Linked DNA regions of Homo sapiens. The protein of the gene in region 5 purifies or fractionates together with the protein of the main gene of each other region. This does not show direct contact. Each region holds a gene or a part of one and is shown on either strand. Other genes may lie near its edges. The genes, in order: ACTR3, NMT2, NMT1, GOSR1, CHURC1 and GLRX.

The links.
Region 1: the proteins of CHURC1 (region 5) and ACTR3 purify together in Homo sapiens (affinity purification with mass spectrometry; 2 studies listed by BioGRID and IntAct, with this or other methods). This does not show direct contact.
Region 2: the proteins of CHURC1 (region 5) and NMT2 purify together in Homo sapiens (affinity purification with mass spectrometry; one large-scale study listed by BioGRID and IntAct). This does not show direct contact.
Region 3: the proteins of CHURC1 (region 5) and NMT1 purify together in Homo sapiens (affinity purification with mass spectrometry; one large-scale study listed by BioGRID and IntAct). This does not show direct contact.
Region 4: the proteins of CHURC1 (region 5) and GOSR1 purify together in Homo sapiens (co-immunoprecipitation; one large-scale study listed by IntAct). This does not show direct contact.
Region 6: the proteins of CHURC1 (region 5) and GLRX purify together in Homo sapiens (affinity purification with mass spectrometry; one large-scale study listed by BioGRID and IntAct). This does not show direct contact.

Annotation. Positions count from the first base shown.
Region 1 is NC_000002.12:113,931,589-113,935,088, forward strand, and holds part of ACTR3 (actin-related protein 3), read left to right. Parts: intron 1-2,690; coding exon 2,691-2,798; intron 2,799-3,500. UniProt on the Homo sapiens protein: ATP-binding component of the Arp2/3 complex, a multiprotein complex that mediates actin polymerization upon stimulation by nucleation-promoting factor (NPF).
Region 2 is NC_000010.11:15,109,694-15,113,193, reverse strand, and holds part of NMT2 (glycylpeptide N-tetradecanoyltransferase 2), read left to right. Parts: intron 1-230; coding exon 231-398; intron 399-1,407; exon of another isoform or gene 1,408-1,666; intron 1,667-3,354; coding exon 3,355-3,492; intron 3,493-3,500.
Region 3 is NC_000017.11:45,064,317-45,067,816, reverse strand, and holds part of NMT1 (glycylpeptide N-tetradecanoyltransferase 1), read right to left. Parts: intron 1-3,500.
Region 4 is NC_000017.11:30,483,908-30,487,407, reverse strand, and holds part of GOSR1 (Golgi SNAP receptor complex member 1), read right to left. Parts: intron 3,195-3,500; coding exon 3,107-3,194; intron 2,746-3,106; coding exon 2,638-2,745; intron 1-2,637. UniProt on the Homo sapiens protein: Involved in transport from the ER to the Golgi apparatus as well as in intra-Golgi transport. It belongs to a super-family of proteins called t-SNAREs or soluble NSF (N-ethylmaleimide-sensitive factor) attachment protein receptor.
Region 5 is NC_000014.9:64,920,955-64,924,454, forward strand, and holds part of CHURC1 (protein Churchill), read left to right. Parts: intron 1-3,036; coding exon 3,037-3,172; intron 3,173-3,500. Other genes in the region: CHURC1-FNTB protein, read left to right, coding at 3,037-3,172. UniProt on the Homo sapiens protein: Transcriptional activator that mediates FGF signaling during neural development. Plays a role in the regulation of cell movement.
Region 6 is NC_000005.10:95,816,538-95,819,726, forward strand, and holds part of GLRX (glutaredoxin-1), read right to left. Parts: intron 90-3,189; coding exon 1-89. UniProt on the Homo sapiens protein: Has a glutathione-disulfide oxidoreductase activity in the presence of NADPH and glutathione reductase. Reduces low molecular weight disulfides and proteins.

The DNA.
Region 1 (3,500 bases), on a different chromosome or scaffold from region 5:
AAGTGTTAAAAAAGTAAGTTAGTGGTGTTTGGGTATTTCAAGGGCTTTCATAGGACAGAAATGAAGGAACTAATATTTATGGAATGCTTTCTCTGTGACAAGAACATTGTATATATATTTATCCTTGTAAATAATCCTTTATCATTTATCCTTATAAATCTTTTTGTCCTTTATTGTAGTCTTTTTTGATTGACTTATCTTTAGGTATATTTGACACCCTAATATTTCACTTCTCTTAATTTGTACGTTTATCTGTATGGAACAGCTTCTCTCCCACCCCTCAGGATCAGAGCTGACCTCATTTTTTTTTTTTTTCCCTTGTAGCAGAGGTAATCCCTGACATAACACAAATGCTTTATATGTGTATTAATTCATTATTTCTATTAAATGTAGATATTTTTGTTTCTGTTTTTTGTGGAGGAAGAAAACTAAAGCTGGAAGGCACTTTATTCATAATTAAATGGTTAGCTGTGATACCAGGCAGCTGAGGTCTGTCTGACTTTGCTCTTTCTTGGGATCACACTGGTTTTTGTAACTCCACGGTACACAGAATCAATAAGTGATAATTATGGATGAATATTTTAACTTGGATAGCAAAGAACTTTTTAATGTTTAATGCAATCCATAAATTTAATGAACTGCCTTTTAAATTCTCTGCTGCTAAAAATATTTAAGGAGTCACTTAAACCTGTCATGAACTTTATAGAAGAATTCAGTCTTGAGTGGGAGGCCCTTTTTTAGTTCTTAGAATATGAATAAAATGAGGAGTTGGGAAAATTCATCTTTCACTTGGGAGTTTTTGCTTCTCATCCTATGTTAAATATAATAAACTTATGTTTAACCATATTGTCAGGTAAAGCTTACTTTAAAACACTGGCATCATGAGCTTTGTTTCATTCCTCTGGAGTCGTAATTTGGTTTTTCAGTGATTTCCTTAGTGGCCTCTGAGTGCTCTTAATTTCATTATTTAATCTCTGTTCTGTTTTGTTGATGTTCAGTAGTCAATAACATTTCTGTAACATGATGTGCTGATACATATCTATTCTAGTTTGGGACCGTAACTGTTTACAAAAGACTTGTAAAAGTGATCAGAGATAATTCTTGGTTGTAGATGATAGTTTTGAACTTACTTATAGAGGAAGGATATCTCATAATGAAGTCTAAACAGTATATATATATATAACTAGTATTAGGATGGAATTTTTCATTTTAAGATTGTCAAAAAATAATGTATAGTTCTGTTAGCCTATAGTGATTATGTGGTGATTGTGTTAATATGATCTTGTGTTCAGATAGGAGGGTGACCTAGATAGCTTTCTAGGTCCCTTTTAGCTATTACAGTCCAGGTAGGTAAAATAAGTCCAGTATAAGTTTAGTTGTTTTTAATTACTAGTCATATACTTTGTTTGAGGCTTGGATTGTAAGAAATTTAGTTTTTTAAAAAATGAACTATGTTAATTTCTTAATTCTCACACTTAAAAAAGAATTGTGTTGTATTGTCTGTACCAAGGTTTTTCATAGAAAAATTTTATCAACGTTGCTCCATAATTAAATCATAGTAGTATTTGGAGGTGTGCGATGGCGTTTTCTGTATGTCATATAGTCCTAAACACATGTTACCTTAAAAAAATTTGAAGGTAGGCCTGGCACAGTGGCTCATGCCTATAATCCCAGCACTTTGGCAGGCTGAGGCAGGTGAATCACAAGGTCAGGAGTTCAAGATCAGCCTGGCTGAGATGGTGAAACCCCGTCTCTACTGAAAATACAAAAATTAGCCGGGTGTGGTGGTGGGCACCTGTAATCCCAGCTACTCCGGAGGCTGAGGCAGAGAATTGCTTGAACCCAAGAGGCGGAGATTGCGGTGAGCCGAGATCGTGCCACTGCATTCCAGCCTGGGTGACAGAAAGAAACTCTGTCTCAAAGAAAAAAAGAAAAAGAAGGTAATCTTTTAGTAATAGTTGTTTATAGCCATATATGTATTGAATAACTGGAGGTAGGGTGGTTGTGTACTTTCTGCCTTACATTGCAGTTTGTAACAGGCCAGCCCACGTGGACATAGTTTAAGTTCTGGCAAGTTAGTTCTATACAATTTTTTTTTTTTTTTTTTTTGAGATGGAGTCTTGCTCTGTCGCTCAGTCTGGAGTACAGTGGCATGATCTCGGCTCATTGCAAGCTCCGCCTCCCGGGTTCACGCCATTCTCCTGCCTCAGCCTCCTGAGTAGCTGGGACTACAGGCGCCCGCCACCGCACCTGGCTAAGTTTTTGTATTTTTTAGTAGAGACGGGGTTTCCCCGTGTTAGCCAGGAAGGTCTCGATCTCCTGACCTCGTGATCTGCCCGCCTCGGCCTCCCAAAGTGCTGGGATTACAGACAGTTAGTTCTGTACTGTTTAATGCAATCTTCCACATTTTTAGCTTTAGGACAGAAATAGCCTTTATAAAATATGTAAATCTTACAAATCATGCTCCTAAAAGCAAATGTAAACCTCTAAGTTTGTCTTAATAAAATGTAGGGAGTGAGCTATTTTATTGCATAATACAAAATTAATTTTATGTATTTTCTTTCCACAGATACTACATTTAAAATTGAATAAAGTACTCCAGGGAACTAGTTTTTTTTTTTTCGATTAACTCTTTGTTTTTTTGTTTTTTTTTTTTGTTTTTTTGCCTTTCTTCTTTCTTTGTGCTCAAGGCTGTTCTTGCCTTAGCTGCATCTTGGACCTCAAGACAAGTAGGAGAACGGACGTTGACCGGTACGGTAATAGACAGTGGAGATGGTGTCACTCATGTCATTCCTGTGGTAAGGCTATTTTACAGTTACTGAACAGAACATGAAATAACACATCTGGCAAAGTTAAATTATACGAATTAATGTTACTTTTAAAAAACTTTAAATGCTGCACTATAATTTGGCCATTTGTCCAGTTATAGCTATGTTTTGCTCACCGTTTAAAACTTTTATAAACAATTCAAAATGTTTCTTTTACTGTAGGTTTGTACTGCAATTAAGAAAATTACAAATTGCAATATCTGGAATGGAAGTATATTAATGGCTTTCATTCTGTTTTCCAGTTGGATGTGTGTTAGCCATTTGATGACCTCTTTTATTCATAATTAACAGATTTCAGACTGGTGTACAGGGTAACTGTATAACAGTTAGTTTTAAGTACCTGAACTTTAGTAGATGCTTTATGGTTTGTACTTAATAAAGCATATTAAGAAAAATGCATCAAATTAGATTGTCAGAAATAACATTTTTCTTCCAAGGCCGTTGTGCTTCAGTTCTTAATGATACATCAAGTTTTAAAAAAATTATGCCTAATGAATTCAAAATGACTACTAGAATTCATACTGTTTATTATTAAATGGGTATATAGAGAAAGGTTTATCTTTTAAAGTAATTTTTATATTATAATGAATATCACTTAAGGATTTACATTATTTTGAACTTTTTTTTTTTTTTATTCTCACTCCAGTGTTTAATGCATCAGGCAATGTCTGT
Region 2 (3,500 bases), on a different chromosome or scaffold from region 5:
CTAAGAACTTTGTGCAAATCACCAATGGGCACTTAGGCTGAAGTCCCAACTCCAGGCCCTTCTTGGCCTCTACACAGCACAATATAAGGGGCCCCAAATTGGACTGCCGAGAAAGAAGTGTGACTTACTGCTTTTCGTTCTCTGGGGCAAGGGAGAGAACAGAGTTAGTGGAAATGCACGTATGCAGTTGGTTCAAGGAGATCTCTGTCTGACAGCACTTTTGCTCCTAGAGCCCCAACGGTAAACTGACTGATTTCCTGAGCTTCTATACGCTCCCCTCCACGGTGATGCACCACCCTGCTCACAAGAGCCTCAAAGCCGCCTACTCATTCTACAACATCCACACAGAGACGCCCCTGCTGGACCTCATGAGCGACGCGCTCATCCTGGCTAAATCGGTAAGCCACTCCTTCCTGTTCACGCCGTTTGGTTCTCCAAATGTCTGTGCCAAACTATAGAAGACATCTTACTGTGTTTTCTTCCACACAGGTGGAATTTATGCGAGACTTTAAAAAAACTATTGATCATCAGTCAAAGGAAGAATTTTGATAAGAGTTTCTTTTGAAACTTTAGAGGCTATTTTCATCATTAATTTTATGGCAGTTTAACAAAAAAGACAAAATGTACAAATTATAAATGTTTAATCCTTATATAAGAATATATAAGGCTGGGCATGGTGGCTCAGGCTTGTAATCCCAACACTTTGGGAGGCCGAGATGGGTGGATCACCTGAGGTTAGGAGTTTAAGACCAGCCTGGTTAATATGGTGAAACCTCGTCTCTACTAAAAATACAAAAGTTAGCCAGGCTTCGTGGTGTGTGCCTGTAATCCCAGCTACTCGGGAGGCTGAGGCAGGAGAATTGCTTGAACCTGGGAGGCAGAGGTTGCAATGGAGCTGAGATTGCACCACTGCACTCCAGCCTGGGTGACAGAAACTGTCTCAAAAAAAAAAAAAAAAAAAAAAAAAAAAAAAAAAATATATATATATATATATATATATATATATATATATATATATAAAGCCCATATCTTAGGAAGTAATATAAGGAAAATATTAATACATGAGTGAATATTTTTGTTGAGTGAATAACTAGCAGCAATTTTTTTATTCAACCAAATAGTCTCTGAATTTTAAAATTAAAGGAATGAAATTCAAAATTTAATTGTAGCCAGTCTACATGGTGAAACCCTGTCTCTACTAAAAATACAAAAATTAGCAGGGTGTGATAGCACACACCTGTAATCCCAGCTACTCGGGAGGCTGAGGCAAGAGGATTACTTGAACCTGGGAGTTGGCGGTTGCAGTGAGCCGAGATTGCACCATTGCATTCCAGCCTGGGCCACAGAGTGAGACCCTGTCTCAAATTAATTAATTAATTAAAATAAAATAAAATAAAAATCTCTTACCTGTGCCTTTGGATCCCCAAGTCAACATCATCCTCAGATTGTCTGCTTTTTTTCAACACTTCCCAAATATGGCCAGTAATTAGTTATTTAAGGTAAAAACCCTGAGAAATAAAAATAAAAAGTGCTTCTTCTATATCACATTTTGCATAGTATTATTGTCTGACATTTTAAAGAAATTTAATTTTTTACCATTAAAATTTTACATAAATATATTTCCCATTATCAGCCCAAAGCAAACATACTATTTTTTTATACTTTTTTTTTTTTTTTTTTTTTTGAGATGAGTCTTGCTGTGTTACCCAGGCTGGAGTGCAGTGGCACAGTCTCGGCTCACTGCAACCTCTGCTTCCCATGTTCAAGTGATTCTCTTGTCTCAGCCTCCAGAGTAGCTGGGACTATAGGTGTGTGCCACCACACCTGGCTAATTTTTGTATTTTTAGTAGAGACAGGGTTTCATCATATTGACCCGGCTGGTCTCGAACTCCTGACCTCAGGTGATCCACCTGCTGCGGCCTCCCAAAGTGCGGGGATTACAGGCGTGAGCCACCACGCCCGGCCTGCATACTATTTAAAGTCTTTACAACTTTGGTCCCTGGGCAATAGCTTCAGCCAAGGTAGGACTTAGAAAGGCTAATAATTAATAATCCTGGAGATGAAACCATCTTGACAACTGTTCCCTTCTAAAACAAGAACGAGGCTGGGTGCAGTGGCTCATGCCTGTAATCCCAGCACTTTGGAAGGCCAAGGCAGGTGGATCACTTGAGGTCGGAGTTCAAGACCAGCCTGGCCAACACGGTGAAACCCGGTCTCTACTAAAAATACAAAGAAATTAGCTGGGCATGGAGGTGCACACCTGTAATGCCAGCTACTAGGAAGTTTGAGGCAGGAGAATTGCTTAAATCTGGGAGGTGGAGGTTGCAGTGAGCCGACATCATGCCACTGTATTCCAGCCTGGATGACAGAGTGAGACTCCATCTCAAAAAAATTTAAAAATAAATAAATAAAACATAAATAAAATATTTTCTGAAATCTTCATAAGTAATTTTATGCCAGTGACAGCCATCATACTACATTTTTAACATTTTTGGGATTCAGCGTTTCTGAATTTTCATGCTGACTTCATTGGATTCACTATAGTTTGTTTGTTTTTTGAGACAGGCGCTCACTCTGTTGCTCAGGTTTAAGTGCACTGGCACAATCACAGCTCACTGCAGCCTCGACCTCTTCGGCTTATGCAATCCTGCCTCAGCCTCCTGTGTAGCTGGGTCCACAGGCACACACCACCATGCCGAGTCAATCTTTTTATTTTTGTAGAGACAATGTCCTGTACCTACACCTACACCTATACCTACAGCCTATGCCCAGGCTGGTTTCAAATTCCTGGGCTCCAGTGAGCCTCCCACCTTGGCCTCCCAAAGTGCTGGGATTACAGGCGTGAGCCACCACATCCAGCCACACTGCTAGTTTTATAAGACAATTTTCAACTGAATTCTTCCTCTTTTTAAAGAAAGAAAAAAAAAAAGTCTCACTCTGTCGCTCAGGCTGGAGTGCCGTGGCACAATCTCGGCTCACTGCCACCTCTACCTCCCAGGCTCAAGCAGTTCTCCTGCCTCAGCCTCCTGAGTAGCTGGGACTGCAGGTGTGCGCCACCACATCTGGCTTATTTTTGTTATTTTTAGTAGAGATGGGGTTTCGCCATGTTGGTCAGGCTGGTCTCGAACTCCTGACCTCAAGTGATCCACCCACCTCAGCCTACCAAAGTGCTGGGATTATAGGCATGAGCCACAGCATCCGGCCCTGAATTCTTAACCTATGCTATATATCACGGACGTTAAATCCTATTAGAAATGCATATTCGAGCTATTAGTAGAATTGTTAAACTGAGATATGTAATACAGAAAACACTAGTCCTTTGTTTTAAATTTTAAATCTTTTTTAAATTGGCAGAAAGGATTTGATGTATTCAATGCACTGGATTTGATGGAAAATAAGACATTCTTGGAAAAACTCAAGTTTGGTATAGGAGATGGCAATTTGCAGTATTACCTGTACAATTGGAGGTGTCCAGGTACAGATTCTGAAAAGGTAAGTGA
Region 3 (3,500 bases), on a different chromosome or scaffold from region 5:
CTTTGAAGCAGCTCTTGATTAGTTTCTTTTTAATTGCCATTTAATTGGGAAACAAAATTAGAACACTTATTTGATATCAGTGATGAGGTTTCTCTTTCCATTCTGCTTTGATCTAGTTTTGAAAAACCAAAAGTTGAAGGGAGAAATTAAAAAGGAACTAAAAAGATTTCTTATTTCCAAGAGCTAGCTGCAGCTATAAGCCATCAAATAAATAGGGAAAGAACGACTCTTGGAGAAGCTGAAGAAAAAAACAAAAACAAGTAAGGCTAGCTTTATGGAATTTATTTTCAGAAAGACTTTTCTCTCCTCCTAAGTTTTCATAAGGGATAGTATCTCACAACCAGGAAATGAGGAGAACTTATAAAGAATCCATGTTAACCTGTCCCAGGGAGTAAGAGAGCAGGATGGAGATGAGACACCTCTTGTCAGAGGGCTCTTGACCCGTGCTTACCAGGATCTCAATGACACTGAAGACACTGCAAAATAAATTCCGAAAGATTCCTAGAACACAATAGTCTAAAAGTTCTTTTTTGTTCCAAAACACTCAGACAATCTTCACTTATTACCCCCAAATTAAAATCTGCCAACTGATGAGATTTATTCTTTGGCAATACTTCTTGGAAAGACTCTCATTAAAAAAAAAAAAAAATCAAATTAAACCATATAGATGAATCACGAACTACAGGGGGATGCTGCATAAAGGTTATCTTATCTGACTCTCCTCTCAATTGTTCAGGATAATTACGCTAGGCACGTAACTGGGGGAAATTGAGTGCAGTAAAAAAACAAACAAAACCAGCTGGATGCAGGAGCTTATGCCCACAATCCCAGCAGTTTGGGAGGCCAAGGTGGCAGCATCACTTGAGGCCAGCAGTTTGAGACCAGCCTGGGCTAAATAGTGAGACCCCATCTCTACAGAAACTTTTTAAAAAGAAAATTAGCCAGGGATGATGGTGCATGTCTACAATCCTAGCTACTTGGGAGGCTGAGGTGGGAGGATCGCTTGAGCCCAGGTCAAAGGCTGCAGTAAGCCATGATCACACCACTGTACTATAGCCTGGACGACAGAGCGAGGCCCTGTTTCCAAAGTAATAACAATAATTTTAAAATTAAATTAAAAAATTTTTAAATAGAAAAACTGAAGAGACGCACCCATACACACTGCATATGTATGCATGTATACCTATATGTATACATGAAGGGTTTGGGTTTTTTTGTTTTTATTTATAGAGATGGGGTCTCACCATGTTGCCCAGGCTGGTCTCGAACTCCTGAGCTCAAGTGATTTTTCTGCCTCAGCCTCCCAAAGTGCTGAGATTACAGGCATGAGCCACTACACACAACCACATGAAGTTTTATATTCACCAAATGTTTATGCTGATTTAATTACGGAGGAAACACAAGACCAGAAAAGTCAAGAACTAAATTCATATACAAAGAGACATAAGTAACTAATACAACTGGCCGGGCGTGGTGGCTCACACCTGTAATCCTAGCACTTTCGGAGGCCAAGGCAGGTGGATTGCCTGAGCTCAGGAGTTCAAGACCAGCCTGGGCAACAACGGTGAAACCCCGTCTCTACTAAAATATGAAAAATTAGCCGGGTGTGGCAGTGTGCTCCTGTAGTCCCAGCTACTCAGGAGGCTGAGGCAGGAGAATTTCTTGAACCCGGGAGGCAGAGGTTGCAGTGAGCCAAGATCGCGCCACAGCACTCCAGCCCGGGCAACAGAATCCAGTACATGAATTTAGCTCATTTTATTAGCATAGAGTACTATGACTTTAGTTCCTGAAAAAAAGGGGCAGGAGGCTGGGTGTGGTGGCTCATGCTTACAATCCCAGCACTTTGGGAGGCTAAGGCAGGAGGATCACTTGAACCCAGGAGTTTGAGACTAGTCTGAGCAACATAGCGAGACACAGTCTCTTTAAAAAAAAAAAAAGGCCCAGGAGAATAAGGGTTAGCTCGAACTATCATTAACCTTTATTATATATTACACATTTTAGACTCTCTAGCATTGAAAGGAAAACTTCTCTGTCAATTTTTACATGATTTTTGAGAACATTTTAAATAATATTAAGACAAAAAACATTTCAAGAAGCAAAACACAGTGGAAAGCACACAACAGTGGAAAGCTCCACAGCAAATTGGAGCTTCCTGGTTTCTGTAGGTATTTCTTTTTTTTTTTTTTTTTTTTTGAGACAGAGTCTGGCTCTGTCGCCCAGGCTGGAGTGCAATGGCGCAATCTCGGCTCACTGCAAGCTCCGCCTCACAGGGTCACACCATTCTCCTGCCTCAGCCTCCCGAGTAGCTGGGACTACAGGCATGCGCCACCACACCTGGCTAATTTTTTGTATTTTTATTAGAGATGGGGTTTCACTGTGTTAGCCAGGATGGTCTCGATCTCCTGACCTCATGATCCCGCCCGCCTTAGCCTCCCAAAGTGCTGGGATTACAGGTGTGAGCCACCATGCCCTGCCTCTGTAGGTATTTCATAAAAACTGTAGTGAGGCTTACAATGAGAATTATTTGGGGAGAGAAAATGTGTATGTAAGAAAAATCTGACATCCTCTCACTTGGTGAGGGGAGATGAAACTCCACTAATACTGGGCTAGGCACTTTAATATCTGCCATTCATTCATACAGCAAATACTCATTAATGCCCACTAAGTGCTAGGCATTTCGAAGACACAATCCTGTTTACATGCTCCTTACTGTCAGATGAGACAGGTACCAGACACATTAAGAAAAATTACCAAACATGTAGTTATATTTATTGTTATTATAACTATTGTTACGATAAAAGCTACAATACAGTATGTGATAAGAGCAGAGGGGCAAGCTGGGAGGTTAGGGACGATCTGAAGAAAGAGGAGGAGGGAGGAAAAGGAGTGCATTCCAGATGTTATCTCATTAATCCCTACAACTCTGAGTTAAGTACCTTTCCCAAGGTCACAGGACTGTTAAGTGTCAGAGCCAAGCTTTGAGATGAGATTTTGAGATCAGAGGCTTGCTCTGTCGCCCAGGCTGGAGTGCACTGGAGAGATCTCAGCTCAGTGCAACCTCTGCCTCCTGTTTTCAAGTGATTCTCCTGCCTCAGCCTCCTAAGTAGCTAGGATTACAGGCGCCTGCCATCATGCCCAGCTAATTTTTGTATTTTTAGTAGAGATGAGGTTTCACTATGCTGGCCAGGCTGGTCTCAAACTCCTGACCACAAGCGATCTGCCCACCTCAGCCTCCCAAAGTGCTGGGATTACAGATGTGCGCCACCGCGCCTGGCCTCAGACCAGATTTAAATTATTCCAAAGTCCATGCTTTTCTACTGTGCCGTGCTGCATTTTCCCACATTGCTGCTTCTCCCCAAAACCATTTCCTCTCAAAGTTCATGGAAAAATGTTGACTCTACCCCAGATTCTTAGTGCCAGAATTAGACTCTCTCCTCCAGACTAGGCCCTTGGTTTTTCACCTACTACCTCCAAACTCATTTTCACAGATCTTTAGATTT
Region 4 (3,500 bases), on a different chromosome or scaffold from region 5:
ATCAAGTCTTATTTAGAAAGTCCTTTCTGCTCCAAAGTTTACAAATTTCACCTCTGCTTTATGGTTTCTTTTTCTATCCTTCTTGGATCCATTTGGAATTTGTTCTGGATGTGAGGATTGAGATAGAATTGTTTTTTTAAAATCTCTGAATAATTAAGCAATGGTTATAGTTCCATTTATTTTATAATTTCTCTTTGCCCCACTGATTTTAAACAACATCTTTATCAGAAACTAAAAATTTCCAAACATAATTGGGTCTACATATAAACTCTGTTTAATTGTTTTTATTTATTTATTTTTTTTCTCTAGTATCAAACTGTCTTAACTATTCCAGCTTTTTAACAGGTTTTAAGATCTGGTAGAACTAGGAACCCTCTACCACTTATCTTCATTTTCAGGTTGTTTTTCTTGGTTGTTCTTGTATGTCTATGATTCCAAATGAACTTTGGTGTCATTATGTCATTTGTTTTTAATTAAACAAACAACGATACAACCCTGCTGTTTCCACTGGGATGTCATGCAATTTAGACGAAAGTCTTCCTATCCAAAAACAGAATGATTCTTTCCTTTACTTAAATCTTGTTCTATGTCCCTCAGTAGAATTCTGCACATACAAGTCCTACACATTTCTTATTTAATTCATATATAAATGCTTTATAGTTTCTTCCATTGTATTTTCTAACAGGTTATCATTTATTTCCTATCATAATAGGAAAACTATTTGCTTTTATGTATTCATTTTGTGATCTACCATCTTACTGAATTTAATTGTTTCTAACTTTTTATCAGGTAATTTTCTTGCGTGTACTAGACATATAATTTTATCCTGCTACCTCACAGAAATTTTGCCTCTTCCTTTCCAATATTTACATCTTTTTTTTTTTTTTTGAAACAGTCACTCTGTTGCCCAGGCTGGAGTGCAGTGGTGCAATCTCGGCTCACTGCAACCTCCACCTCCCAGGTTCAATGTTCAAGCTATTCTCCTGCCTCAGCCTCCCAAGTAGCTGGGATAACAGGCACCCACCACCACGCCCCGCTAATTTTTGTATTTTTAGTAGAGAAGGGGTTTCACCCTGCTGGCCAGGCTGGTCTCCAACTCCTGACCTCAAATGATCCGCCCACCTCAGACCTCCAAAGTGCTTGGATAAGAGGTGTGAGCCACCATGCCCAGCATACATTTCATTTCTTTTTACTGTCTAATTGCACCATCAAGAACTTAAAAAACAACGTTATACATTTGTAGCGATCATGGGTATCCTTGTCTTGTTTCATACAATGGGAATGTTTTTATTGCTTTCTCTTTAAACACAATGCTAGCTTTTAACCCGATAATACATTTTTGTATTAAAGTATCTTTCTATTCCTACTTTTTTTTTTTTTTTTTTTTTAGATGGAGTCTCAGTCTTGTAGCCTAGGCTGGAGTGCAGTGGTGCAATCTCAGCTCACTGCAACCTCCGCCTCCTGGGTTCAAGCTTCTCCTGCCTCAGCCTCACAAGTAGCTGGGATTACAGGCGCCCACCACTATGCCCAGCTTATTTTTATACTTTTAGTAGAGACAGGGTTTCGCCATGTTGGCCAGGCTGGTCTCCAACTCCTGACCTCAGGTGATCCACCTGCCTTGGCCTCCCAAAGTGCTGGGATTACAGGCACGAGCCACTGCGCCCGGCCATCTATTCCTACTTTTAAAAACAGTTTTTAAAATTAGAAATAGTTGCTGACTTTTCTCAATATTAAAAATATTTGTGGCTGGGTACAGCGGCTCATGCCTATAATTCTAGCACTTTGGAAGGCTGAGGGGGTGGATTGCCCATACACAGGAGTTAAGAGAACAGCCTGGGCAACATAGCAAAAACCTGTGAACACAGGAGTTAAGAGACCAGCCTGGGCAATATAGCAAAACCTCGTGAACACAGGAGTTAGAGACCAGCCTGGGAAACATGGCAAGGACCTGTCTCTGCAAAAGCTTTTAAAAAATTAGCCAGGCGTGGTGGCATGTGCTTGTGGTCCCAGATGCTCAGGACGCTGAGGTAGGAGGCTTGTTTGAGCTTGGGAGGTTGAGGCTGCAGTGAGCTGTGACTGTACTACTGCACTCCAGCCTGAGTGACAGAGAAACCCTATCTCAAAAAAAAAAAAAAAATTGCCTTCCTATTTGTACTACCATATTTTTAACATATCCTCCATTTAAATCTTTAAAAGTTTATTTAGTTTTATTGGTGCATACACATTTACTGTTTTCTTAAACAATATACTAAGTATAGTAAATAATTCCCCCTCCATATTATCTTCAAAGCTAGCTGAAAGTACACGCTTACCCACCACGTTATTGTCTATACATGACCATTGGCTATTTCACTGTTACAGCTAGCTAGCTAGGTCTCCCATAGTGGAAGTATATGTACCCAGTGATGAATATTACTCAACTTCGCCAAGAAATAGCAAGAGCTATTAGATATTTTCAGAATTTTATAATGGTGACCCCAAAAAAAAGTAAAACAAGTCCCTTTAGCATGGCATTTATTTTCTCAGATTTTTCTCTTTGTCCTTTTAAATATATGTGCACATATCCAATGCAGGGATTAAAAAAAAAAAAACCCAAACTCCTGTGATAATGAAAACATCTCGAGCCCAATATATTACCTGCAATATGTCTCTATGCCGCTGTAATGTATGCATCAGGGCTGCATTCAAGGAGGGGACACCTGCACTGTTGGTATATTCTGCCATTTTATCATTTACCCCTGTAAGCTAGAAATAAAGAAAAAAAAAACAATCAAAATATTTTACTAAGCACTATAAACAGCTAAAAGCAAATTATTTGCCTATATGCCCTTTTGGTTGACAGCAAAACAAAACAAAACAAAACAAAACAAAAAACAAACAAGAGAGCAAGTAAGAATTCAGCATTCCCCCACATAATCCATAAAGACCAAAATAACATCATATCACCTGAGAATGGCTGTCATCAAAATTCAAGTGGTGTGGGGAGGTACACATATTGAATGGAATGGATAATTTCAATAAACATGTCTGTCTCAATATAATCCAGGATCCTACGTAACAAGTATACAGTTATTTGCAAAATAGCCATTTAACAGAAAGCACTTACCCTTGCCAAAAGTTGTTCAATCTCAATCGCCATTGTCTCAAACATTCTGTCTTGGCTTGATCCATTTAAAAGGGGTGTTGTATCAGAACTAAAAAGAAGTTCAGTTAAAGAGGATCCATTACTCAAATCAGTCCTTTAAAACATACTTAAAATAATAAGGTGATTAATAGGAGCCATAAAATGAATTATGGATTATGTTATATAGGGTCTGTGAGAAACGATCTTTTACATTTTTACCCCAAAGGAATTATGGTTCCTTCAACCTCAACATTACATTCTCTCTTCTTTCCTTGACTCTTACCAAGAGGAAATAAGATTGAGGTTTAAATGATCCACAGATTGGATAACTAGCTAACGAATACTCAGGAACTGGCTTTAAATCCAATATATACAG
Region 5 (3,500 bases):
ACTAACTATAAAAACTATAGTAATCAAGAGAGTTTGATATTAGTGGGAAGGTAGATATATGTATCAAGGGAACAGAATAGTCAAAGCAGACCCACATATATATGGTCATTGACTTTTTTCTACAAAAGCACCATTGTAATTCAGTGGGGGGAAAGACAGTTCTTCAACAAATCTTGCCAAAACAACTGGAAATCCATACGCAACTAAATAAACCTTGATCCTTACCTCATATATAAAATTATTTCAAAATGGATTATAAACCTAAATCTACAAACTAAAAGCTATAAAACTTCTAGAAAAAAATGTAAGAAACTTTGTGCAACCCTGGGGTAGGCAGAGATGTCTTAGGAGAAAAAAAGTATAAATTATAAAAGAAAAAATGTTAAATTGGACTTTATGAAAATCAAAACTTGTTTGCTCATTAGAAGAAACCATCAAAAAAGGCAAATCAATGACGGAGAAAATATATTTGGGAAAAAACTTGTATCTAAGATATATAAAGAACTCTTACAACTCAAAATAAACAACCTAACTTTTTGAAAATGGGCAAAAGACTTGAATGGACATTTCATAAAAGAAGATACATGAATAAGCACCATGAAAAGATGCTCAACATCATTAGTCATCAAGGAAACAAAAGTTAAAACTACAATGAGATACCACTTTACGTCACTGAATGGCAAAAATAAAAAGCAGTACCTAGTATTGATGTAGCTATAGAGCAACTGGAACTCACACATTGCTGGCAGGAATGTAAATTGGAAAACCATTTGGCAGTTTCTTGTAAAGTTAAATATACCATATTTTTACCATATTAGCAATTCCACTTCTACATATTTACCCAAGGGAAAGGAAGACATGTATCCATCCAAGACTTGCACATGAATCTCTATAGCTGCTTTATTCATAATAGCCCCAAATGGAAACAACCCAAATATCTACCAACAGCTGAATCCTACAGGGAATACTATTTGGCAATGAAAAGCAACAAACTACCAGTACCTAGAACAACAGTGATGATGAACATAGGCATTATATCGAGCAAGGAAAATTGGATGCGGGAGTATACTGATTCTGTTTATATAAAATTCTAGAACGTGCAAGACTGGAGATGGAAATCAGATCAGTGGGTGTCTGGGGTGGGATGGAGGTTAGAGATAGACTGAAAAGCATGAAGGAACTTTTTGGGGTGGATAGAAATGTTTTATACCTTCACTAGGGTAGTGGTTACATGGGTATATACATTGGTTAAAAGTCATTCACCTATGTATACCCTTACAGTGTGTGAATTTTATTGTATGTAAATTGTACCTCAGTAGATTTTATTAAAAAAAAAATCAAAGGCTGGGCACAGTGGCTCATTCCTGTAATCCCAGCACTTTGGGAGGCCGAGACGGGCAGATCACGAGGTCAGGAGATCGAGACCATCCTGGCTAGCATAGTGAAACCCCATCTCTACTAAAAATACGAAAAATTAGCAGGGCGTGGTGGCGGGCACCTGTAGTCCCAGCTACTTGGGAAGCTGAAGCAGGAGAATGGCATGAACCTGGGAGGTGGAGCTTGCAGTGAGCCGAGAGTGTGCCACTGCACTTCAGCCTGGGTGACAGAGCGAGACTCCGTCTCAAAAAAAAAAAAAAAAAAAAAAAATCAAAGCAAAGCATTTGTTCTTAATAACTGGAAATGTATACTTTAATCCTAAGGCCCTTTTCCCTTTTAGTAGTTAAGGCAGTACACCTATGATTTAATAACTATGTAGTAATGTCTTGATTTCTCCCACTAGAATTAATGTCTTCCTCAATACATAGAAGGGAGAGATTCCTCAATATATAGAAGGGAGAGATTAATTCTCCCACCAGAATTAATCTCTTCCTCAATACATAGAAGGGAGAGATTAATTCTGGTGCTTGGAATCCAGAAAGACTTCCTAGTGGCATTATTTATGGTGGATCTTAATTTCGCTGATGCTTCTTAAAACTCCTTGAAGGTAGCAACATGTTTGGCTCATCTTTGAATCCTCTGTTGTGCTTTGCACAATATCAGACACAGATGCACTGGAGAAACGTTGATTTGAGTGATTTTTAATCACATTATTTAAAAATACTCTTTAAGTGTGTTGCTGAGAAATGGGATTGGACTAGATTATTTATAAAGTGACTTTTAATTATTAATTATTAGCCTTTAGCAAAGACTTCCTTTGGGTCGGGGACGGTGGCTCACAACTGTAATCCCAATACTTGGGAGGCTGAGGTGGGAAGATCATTTGAGCCCAGGAGTTTGAGACCAGCCTGGGCAACATAGCAAGACCCCATCTCAATTACCAAAAAAAAAAAAAAGGCTTCCTTTGAGCCAGGAGCATAAGTTATTTAGAATTTCTTTTTTAAAAACTTTTTTTGAAAATTTGTATAGTTTCTTAGTAAAGATGTAAAACCCATTCTCTCTTAAATGCCATTGTGTCAGTCTTACGAAATGAAGAACTTAAGCTTCTCTGCCTCAATCATGTGTATCCTTAAGGACTGACATCTATAGAGCTGAGAGTTTACTTTTGTTTATTTTGTATTATGATCAAGGATCAAAACTATTTGAACAAACAACTAAACATCTATGTAAGATCATCTTTATCATTGACTCAGTTTCTATTTTGATTGAATTTAATTTTAGTTGGTAAGCCTCGTTTAATATTGTTGGTTATTAAATTTTTCTAATTTTCTATTTTCATATTTTATATTAAGGTTTCCTTAAGTTGTTTCTAAATATCTATTTTCAGTTTATCCTCCCTTTTCAACATAGTGGCAGTCCTTACAGACTTAAGGATCTAACACTGCACTTTAGTTGCTTTTTTTTTTTTTTTTTTTTTAACATGAGTAACACTTCTTTAGGAAAGCTAGTAATTTCAAAAATTATTTGGTATATGACCTAGAAGTAAATGCTGGCCATTTTTTAGTTTTGTTTTGCCTTTAGACATTTTAAGTCTGTTAATCATCTTCACTAAAGATTTTGAAATGTAAAGAAATTAAATTCCTGTTTCTGATATTTTAGGGTAATACCTGCCTGGAGAATGGATCTTTCTTACTGAACTTTACAGGCTGTGCAGTGTGCAGTAAGCGGGATTTTATGCTGATCACAAACAAATCCTTGAAAGAAGAAGATGGAGAAGAAATAGTTACCTATGATCGTAAGTAGACTTTATTTTTTAACCTGAGTGTGTTAGCAGGTGTCAGCTTTTGGAAGTCGATATGTTACACAAAATATTCTGAGGCCTATTTCAATATTGTATTGCGCACATAATTACTAGTTAGGTCTTTAAGAGGAAAATGTCATTAACACCTCATTTATCTGGGATATCAAATAGTCTATGTAAATGACTTTTGCAGATAACTAAAGCTTACGATTCAGGAACTGAATTTTTTTTGTTTATCAAATTATTTTTCACGGACATATTTTTAAAAGCTTTATGCTGCCTTAACAAGATATACTTTTTATTATTGTTATTATTGTGACCT
Region 6 (3,189 bases), on a different chromosome or scaffold from region 5:
AGCCGCGTCAGCAGTTCCCCACTCTGTTGCAAAGAGACTAGATCACTGCATCCGCCTATACAATCTTTACCAATAAAGACTCGAGGCACCTAAAAAAGCACACGACCCAGGACATTACTACATTACTAGATTAGACAGAACATTTCTATCCTACCACTAAATATTTCCCGTGATTCCAAACTTTTCAAATCACTTTAAAACCTCCTTATGTATATGCTCACAGGACAGGACTTCCTTTCTGTTATAAGGGGTAACATTATTAACTCGAGAATGTTTTTACGCCAGAAGAGTTTTCAAGTTGTGTGCTATGCATGAGCTTGTCCAACTTGTCAAAGGGATTTAAAAATTTCACTCTACAGAAACATGTTTCAGAAGGAGAATTCTGATTGGCTGCAGTCAGACCACCTAGATTGAACTCTGCTTTCTCTGCATCAGGGACCACACCTAAGATTGTAAACTGGGTCACAGCAATCAGGAAGGAAGGAGTTCGTTTCTAAATACAGCTGGAAAAGTATTTGCATTACGTCTCTGATTTTTCAGGTCCATGGTTTATTAAGTACAATCATCTCTCTGTGTTGTTAAAACACAGGTGAGGGCCAGGCACAGTGGCTCATGAATGTAATCCTACTACTTTTGTGAGGCTGAGGTGGGAGGGTCGCTTGAGCCCAGGAGTTCAAGACTAGCCTAGGTAACATCGTGAGACCCCGTCTCTACAAAAAATACAAAAATTAGCCAGGCATGGCGGTGCATGCCTGTAGTCCCAGCTACTCAGGAGGCTGAAGTGGAAGGATTGCTTTGGCCCGGGAGGTCGAGGCTGCAGTAAGCTGTGATGGTGCCATTGCACTCACACCTGGACGACAGAGCAAAACAAAGAAAGCAAAACAAAGCAACACAAGTGAGCTCTGTCCTCAACCAGGGGGGTGTAGTGGTGTTTGAGTCTCCTTTAATCGCTGGTCCATCATAAGATGGTTAACTCACCCCGGATGAGGGTGCGTCACCCACGCCAAGCCACAGTCATGACACCTGCTGAATAGGCTCCTCTCTAGTTACACACTTCCTCCCTGCTGCTAGGAGCAGACACATTCCAGAATTCCAGAGGGCTTTTAGAATCGCGAGGGAGGAGGAAATACCCTCAACGTGGCTGAATTTATAGGCCAGGAGTGTTCCACCAAGGCTGCCTGGCAGTGAAGAAAAAAGCCCCATGGAGGTCACCGCGTCATCAGAGCCAGCGGGCCTCTCCCCGAGTACCAGGAACGCACTGGAGGGGAGGGAGAGGTGGAGGCAGAAAGCAATGAGACTATTTTTCAAAGCTTTGGGCTTTCCTCAGAAAGCATAATAATTGGAGCAAATTGTCCAAAAAGTGAGAAAGGTGAGAAAAGGGGCTTCATTATTGTGGATAAGTTCTTACAGCACTTTTATTAAAAAGGGGGTCTGGGTGAAGGTAGGCATTAAAAATAAAGTCTAAAAATTAAAAACAAATCTTGCACATTTCCATGGCTATTCCCTGTGCTCTCACAGGATAACTGAGGCTTTGAAAACCCACAGCCCTGGAGCTGCCCCCCAGCCTCCTGAGATGACCCTGAAATGTGACCAGGCTGCTCCCAGCGTGGAGTTTTGTGCTCAGTGTCTGGCAAAGAAGCGAAAGGCTCCTTTACCCTCACACCCATCCTCTAGTCTGGACAACTGCAAAACTGCCATAAATCGTATCAGTGAATGGTACCCCTAACGGGAGCTGAATGGCAGGCTGTACAGACGGCACGGGGGTGCTGTGGCAGTGAAACCAAAGCAAGAAGTACTGTTGATAAAGTTGAGCAAAGAAGAGGAAATACCCTGTGCTGCTTCCCCTCCTGTCCCTTCCCGTCCCAGCCTCCTCTTTAGAGGAACTTGAGAGTCCGCTACTGTCAAGGAGAGGAAAGAACTGCCACCCCAAAACGAGTTTGGTAATCCTGTGGTTCTTATTCTCCTGCACTAGGTTTCCCCAGCCTCAGCCAGGCAACATCTCCTGTACGCTAGCTAGGGTTACACAAATGCAACTACTCAAAAGCAATTTCTCAACACTCCTCGGCTACCTCCCTGGTATAAGCCACCTTCATCTGTCACCTGAATAACTACTATAGCCTCCCAATGTCTCCCAGCTTCAACCTTCACCTTTGCCCTACTGTCTCTTCTCCCCACAGCTGCCAGAGTGGCCCTTTCAAAATGGGGTCAGATCAAGTGACTCGTCTGCTCAGCACCCACCAGGGGCATCTCATCTCACACCGAGTACCAGTCACAGTTCTTCCAAGCTCCTATTAGCTCTCAGACCTCACCTCCACTAACTCTCCTACTGGCTCACAGTGCTGCAACTATACTGGCTTCCTTACTATTCCACAAACCTGCCAGGCAAACGTCTACCCCAGGACCTTTGCATTCACTCTACCTGTAAATTGTGTACACCCATCTCCCTCAGCTCCTATAGATATCTGCTCGAATGTTCCCTTCTCAGTGAGACCCAATGGCTCCATTTAAAACTGGACCCTGATGCTTCCTCCCTACCTTTCCTACTTTTCCTCATAGCACGTGCCACTTACCAACTCCCAACATACTGTTTTATTACTGTATTTGTTTGTCTCCCCCACTAGAATATAGGTTCAACAAAGGCAGAAGGGTTTTTTTCATGGCAGAAAAGGCAGAATTTTTTCCCCAATGTACATAAAAGTGTCTGGTACATAGTAGGTGCTTAAAAATATTTGTTGCATCCAGTAAAATCATCATTCAAATGCGAAGGAGAAATACTTTCTAAGGTAAACAAAACTTGAGGGAATGTGTTACCAATGGAATCACCTTGCAAGAAATGCCCAAAGAAGTTCTTCAGAGAGAAGGGAAATGATATAGTTCAGAAACTCAGATCTATGTAAAGAAAAGTGCATTAGAGGAGAAATAAATGAAGGCACTAATTTAGGAGCTGTGACTATAGCAAAACAAAAACAGGTTTTACCAAGTACATGGCTTGATTGAAGCCACTAACTTTCCATAATCATGTCCTGCTGATTACCTACTAGATACAGCTACTTTATAGAATAATTAAGACTGCAGGATCAGGCCGGGCGCCGTGGCTCACGCCTGTAATCCCAGCACTTTGGGAGGCTGAGGCGGGTGGATCACGAGGTCAGGAGATTGAGACCATCCTGGCTAACACAGTGAAAACCC